2 separate regions of the Homo sapiens genome follow, and region 1 is linked to region 2. The links come from fine-mapping of genetic effects on gene expression. Tissue or cell type: blood mononuclear cells. Region 2 holds a variant in brackets; the other region holds the start of a gene. All regions are shown on one strand. Distances are from middle to middle.

Evidence for each region.
Region 1: DDAH1 starts here. The variant in region 2 is fine-mapped to the expression of DDAH1 in blood mononuclear cells (TOPMed, PIP 0.98).

Annotation. Positions count from the first base shown.
Region 1 is chr1:85,463,751-85,466,664 of GRCh38, reverse strand. DDAH1 (dimethylarginine dimethylaminohydrolase 1) reads left to right here and starts at 1,506. Exons shown (of 6, transcript NM_012137.4): 1 at 1,506-1,922. The coding sequence starts at 1,620. RefSeq lists silencers at 1,248-1,657, 1,898-2,097.
Region 2 is chr1:85,524,340-85,527,253 of GRCh38, reverse strand. It overlaps a transcript of DDAH1 not described here. Among named protein-coding and RNA genes, the nearest start is that of CCN1, 55 kb to the left of the region's middle. The variant C/G (reference allele first, on the strand shown) is at 1,453.

The DNA.
Region 1 (2,914 bases), 61 kb after region 2:
CCTAAGAATTTTGCTTTAGAAGTACTACCTAGTCGGTCTTAAAGGTTTGTTATTTTACTTTTGGTCCCACTTCCCAATGTCAGTGTCAGAGCTGTCCTTGAGACTCCTCAAATTTGGGCAGGGCGTGGTAGCTCATGCCTGTAATCCCAGCACTTTGGGAGGTGGAGGCGGGTGGATCACCTGAGGTCAGGAGTTCGAGACCAGCCTAGCCAACATGGTGAAACCCTGTCTCTGCTAAAAATACAAATTAGCCGCGAGTGGTGGCGTGCACCTGTAGTCCCAGCTACTCAGGAGGCTGAGGCAGGAGAATTGCTTGAACTGGGGAGGCAGCAGTTGAAGTAAGCCGAGATCGTGCCACTGCACTCCAGCCTGGGCAACAAGAGTGAAACTCCGTCAAAACAAAACAACAACAAAAAACAAAAAAAACTCCTCAAATGTGAAGCTGAGAATTTTGAAGCTCATTTATAAATTCACACCACCCTTGTGGGAGGGGAGAGAAGGCAGATCACATCTCTGGGCTCAGTTGGGGCAACCATTCTAGGATGCTCAGAGAGACCTGCTCCTAGAAATCCAGAGTTTCCTAAAAGCTGGGATCAGAGTTCTGGCAAGAAGGCTGTAGCCTGGGCCTTGGCCCTAGACCACCAAAAAAGTGAATACAGGCTTAGGCAGTGTTCATAGAGGCCCAGCATCTGGAACAAGGGTGCTGCTGTAGTCTGTGCTGGTCAGACCACACAGGAAGAATTGTTTATTTTCCGGATACTATGATTTTAAAAGGATACAAGCAAATTGGTGTGTATCAAAAGGAAGCTGACCAGAATGTTGAAGGGACTTGGAAACCAAATCACTAGTTACTTTTCAGTGGTTTGGGCTCCAGGACTGGAGGGGGTTTAGGGTGGGGGGTAGAGGATGGTGTTAGGCAGCATAGATAATTAGAACTGTTTTCAGATATGCAAATGCTGTTTTGTGAAAACACACACACACGCGAACACACACAAAACAAGAAAAACTTGTACTTTAGGTAAGGCCAGAAAACAGAACTGGGACCCGTGGGATTTAAGCTCAACATGAAGAATCTGTAAACCATTATAGCTCTTCAAAAGTGGGCTAGACTTTGTAAGCACGCAAGGTTTAAACTGTTCAGGTAAAGACCAGGAAGCCCTCCAGCTGCTCTGTCCAGACCGAGGCCGGCTCTCCAAGTCCGCGCTGGGGACGATGGGAGGTGTGCACCTGCGACAGAACACAGGTACCGCCAGGTCCGGGTAGCGGTGGCTTTTCGCCGAGGTCCCCCGCCTCCGCATACTTCTTGCCCTCGCTGCTTCCCCGGCCGCCTCTCCTGGCCCCACTCCTCGCCCGGCGCTCGCCGCTACAACTCCCGCCTGGGCTGGCGCGAGACCCGCGAGCGCCGGAGTGGGCGCGCGGGATGCGCGCGGGCCGGCGCCCGGAGCTCTGGGCATGCTCAGTCGCGCGGGCAGGGCTCCGGGCGCGAGCTGGGCTCCTTCTGCACCACATTCAGCGGCTGCCAAGAGGAGCCGACGGGCGCTCGCAGGCTCAGCGCGCGCTGCCCGCGGCAGGACCCGGCCGCCTCCGCCGCCGCCGCCGCCCCTAAGCCTCCCGAAGCCATGGCCGGGCTCGGCCACCCCGCCGCCTTCGGCCGGGCCACCCACGCCGTGGTGCGGGCGCTACCCGAGTCGCTCGGCCAGCACGCGCTGAGAAGCGCCAAGGGCGAGGAGGTGGACGTCGCCCGCGCGGAACGGCAGCACCAGCTCTACGTGGGCGTGCTGGGCAGCAAGCTGGGGCTGCAGGTGGTGGAGCTGCCGGCCGACGAGAGCCTTCCGGACTGCGTCTTCGTGGAGGACGTGGCCGTGGTGTGCGAGGAGACGGCCCTCATCACCCGACCCGGGGCGCCGAGCCGGAGGAAGGAGGTAACTGCCGACTCGAGGGGCGCGGCCGGGGCGCGCGCCAGGCCCTCCCCCGCCGCCGGCCGCCGTGTTGCCTGGGGAGTCGCGCCATTGGCCCTCGGGCTAGTAGTTCACAACTTCCCGTCGGGGGGCGAGTGTGTGTGTGTGTGTGTGTGTCAGAGAGTCAGAGAGAAGTTCATTGTTCACACCTCCCGGCTGCCGGCAGCCTTCTGGAGGATCCGATTCAATGTGGTTGTACGGTCTCGGGCAGGTGGGTGGGCGGGGGATTCCGTCTCACGGGCATTTTTATTTGTGAAAATTAAACGGCAGCGACGACAGTGCAACTCTGAGTGTTTCCCAGGGAGCGAGGGCCGCGAGGGGTGCCGCTCCGGTAGGGCGGGTGGAGGCTGGGCGTCCCTCCAGGGGGCAGCGCCAGTCGTGACACCGAAGCCCCCAAGTCCTGCCTGGCGCTCGGAGCAGGACAAGCTGGATGAATTAACGGGGTGTCGGTGCCCACAGACCTGGGGCTTCTCAAGTTAGTTTTCAGTGGTGGCGAGTGAGTCCCAAAGAACGGGACTAGTAAGTGAATGAATGGAAGGAAAAGTGTTTTGTTGGTGAGCTGTGCTAAATGTGTGCATGAATGGGCTAGGTTTGAAAAGCTGTACTCTGTGCGGTGTTGGGTGTGTGTGCTAGCGAGCGTGTTTAATTAGAGATGGTTGTTTCACAAATTCCATAATTTTTATTCTCTATATTTTTAAACTCACAGCAATTAAGAGAGTTTTTCTGTTCTCAAGGGTTGTAACTACTTTGAAATACTGCAGCTTGTGAAATGGCTGATTGCTTTAAGTGCAATGTAGGTTAGTGGGGAGAGACAAATAGAGTGAGATTGGATTTTAAAATGCCATCTGGCCTGGGATTCTTCTCATTGCCAGTTAAGAGCCCAGGCTCAAGACTCCGTTGCTATTGGCATCCAGTGGCATTGCAAGAAGCTAGTGGTTTCTTTCATTTCTGGAGAT
Region 2 (2,914 bases):
ACTCACCCAGAGTCCATCAAACTCGCTTTTCAAGGGGTAGATGAGGACAGCAGGATCCTCAGTAAAGAAGAATCACCTAGTGAGGCAGAGTTTCCAGCAGCACAGTGAAGCTACACATAGGTTGTATATCTTGGTATGATGTGTATTTGCTTTGGAAAGAGACATTTAAACAAAGTTCTCCTTAGCAAAGTCTTGCCTCCACTGCCACCAATCCAGGAGTCTCAAAATTACTTTTAATGAATTCAAGAAATAGAAGTTCTACCCTGGAACACTTATTAGCTGCCTTTCTTATATAAGTAATTACAGGACACACCATTTTCTTCCTTTTTCCTATTAACATTTCCGATTCTGCCTCTCTTTTCTCCCTCCCTCCTTCTCTTCTCACTTTGTGTCACATACACTTCATTTGAAATTCTCTAATTCTCTTTTTAGACCAGGGAAAATCGATATCAAACATTCCAGGGCCAGAGGTTTTCAAGAAAGACAAGACAAAAACCACAGAACTTCTTTCACATATGACTGAATCCCTTCACACTCTTTCTGGCCTATGGGATACTCGTTGCTGAGAGGTTTAATTTGCCTAGAATTCTCTTTACCCCCTTCTTCCCAACTCAGCCCCTTCTCTTGGTATCCACATTCCTTGATAAATACAGCCAAACCCAGCATCTTTCTCAGAATCACAAAACCCTAGTGCAAGGTCTCACAATTCTCACTCCATGAAATATGAGTTCCTGGTCAAGTGTTAAAGGCTGTGATCACACACCTAGATCCGGGCGCTCTGACCAGTGGAGTTTGTCATAAGGCCCTATTCTTTCTCAGTGATCCATGAGACACTGAACAAATTAGAGGTGCTCTATATTCAGCATGTGACTGACTGCCAAAGAAATGAAACTCAGAACCCAGGGGTACATCACAGAATGAGGAGATGATTCAGAAGCTGAGGGATCATTGTCACTGCAAACATATAGTATTAGAGAGAGAAGGAAAGCTATTAGCTTCAGGAATAAGCCTTTTTCTCTCCTCGTCTCTCTTTCCATGAGCTGGGGCTCACTGAAAGTGTTGCTGAAATGAGGGAAAGATGGGCAGCACTTTTTCCTGTAGCACATACAGGACACTTACATTTCCATGTCCTTTGTCACCATATCTGTTAGTAATTTTTCTGGATCCATTTAACCAGACAGCCTTCTGACTTCAAAATCTGTGGCAGAATTTTCACATGGCCATTCTGAAACAGAGGAGCTCACCTAAACAAATCCTGTAAGACACAGTTACCTAAAAATAACCCTAGCAAATTATTGGGAGTAGGAAATGAAGCAGAGATAGCAAGTTCCCACTGACTTTTTAAAGAATCACTATGAAGTGTTTACAAGGATACCGCAGAGGACTAAAATTAGTTTATTCTGCACAGCATTATCCACTGCTGACTCAAGATGGTGATACAAGCAGTGTTAA[C/G]CTGTGAGCTCACCCGGAAGCTCATTCTCTAAAATTACTCTCTTGCAGGGATAGACCCCTAGTTCACATTGGTGAATGGAAGATGGGGTATAAATAGCAACTTGTTACGCCATCACTCAGAAGCTATGTGTCCTGCTAGTCTCCAGTTTTGTTTCTTGCAGATGTAAGAGCCTCCTGATCAGTCTATTGTCTCTCAGTGTTCAAGGGTATGGAGTGTGTGTGTGTGTGTGTGTGAATATCATTCTTTCAGTTGTACAATACAATAATTAGAAAACTTAGAAGTTAAGTGATGTGGTAAAAATCATACAGCAATTCCCTGACACTTAAAACTGAGTTTTTGTTCCCATAATCTTCAAAGACTTAAATGTACTGAACCTTTGCTGTTTCTCCTATGAGCCAGAGGACATGTCCTATCAACTGAGTTAAGTGTCAACAGTCAGCTAGCTAGAAACATGTTCAGATATGTGTAGGGAGAGAAGAATATGTAGATACATATGCTGTACGAGTGGATTCTTATGAAAGAAAGGTTTTCTTTATATTTAAGGGCAAGTTTATTAGAATTAAGCTGCATCCACACTCTACTCCAAGTTATTATTTTGGTTGCTTCACTCAAATAGTCAATTCGATAAAGAAAAAAAAGTCAGCATCTCCAGCATTTCTACATCAGCCCATAGCCTGTGATGTTCTCTCTTGGTGGCCGATTTTGCATTTGTTTTCATACCTACTATATTTTCTATATTTCATACCTACTATATTTTCTATAGCATTCATTTCAAGACACAAACAGATATTCTTTAATGTGTGCCAGTCAGTCATTTTGATTCTAAATAATTCTGTTTCTCCGTAGGTGCCCATTCTTTGCCGCTGACAACTTCCCCCCATCTGCTTAATCCATTTTCTGGCTTATTAAGTACTGGGATGATTTCTTCAGTGACAGAAGAAACTATGCATCACTGATTTCCTATTTTTGAAGCCCTGGCATTTTTCTTGTTGGGACACTGCGTGCTTCATTTCTAATTAGGCTTTTCTTCTTACTCATATTTGGCTTTGCTTTATCAATACATTACGCAACCAGTAACTGGAAACAGGATCCCAGAGAGTGCCACAAGCAAGCTTCCCAGTGACCTAGGGGAAAGAAGGAGTATTAAAGGGTGAGATGGAATTGGAGTTGCAGGCAAGATGATTATCAGGCTTGATGATGTAATGGGAAGTTGTTAATTTTAAAGCAACAGCTGGATTCTTTCTCAGGTTGATAGTAGTTCTGTTTTGTAGCCAGATGAGTCTTCAGTAGAAACAATCCCATTTTATCAGATACAGTATTTCCTTTAAGATAGGCTTATACCAAACATCTTTAGAGAAAGCCATTGGGCCTATTCTGTTGTACAACCAGGGTTAAGCAAAATGCTCCAGAAGTAGTGTTTTTTTTAAGGTCCTATTCAAACGCCTCCACTTCCATGAAGTT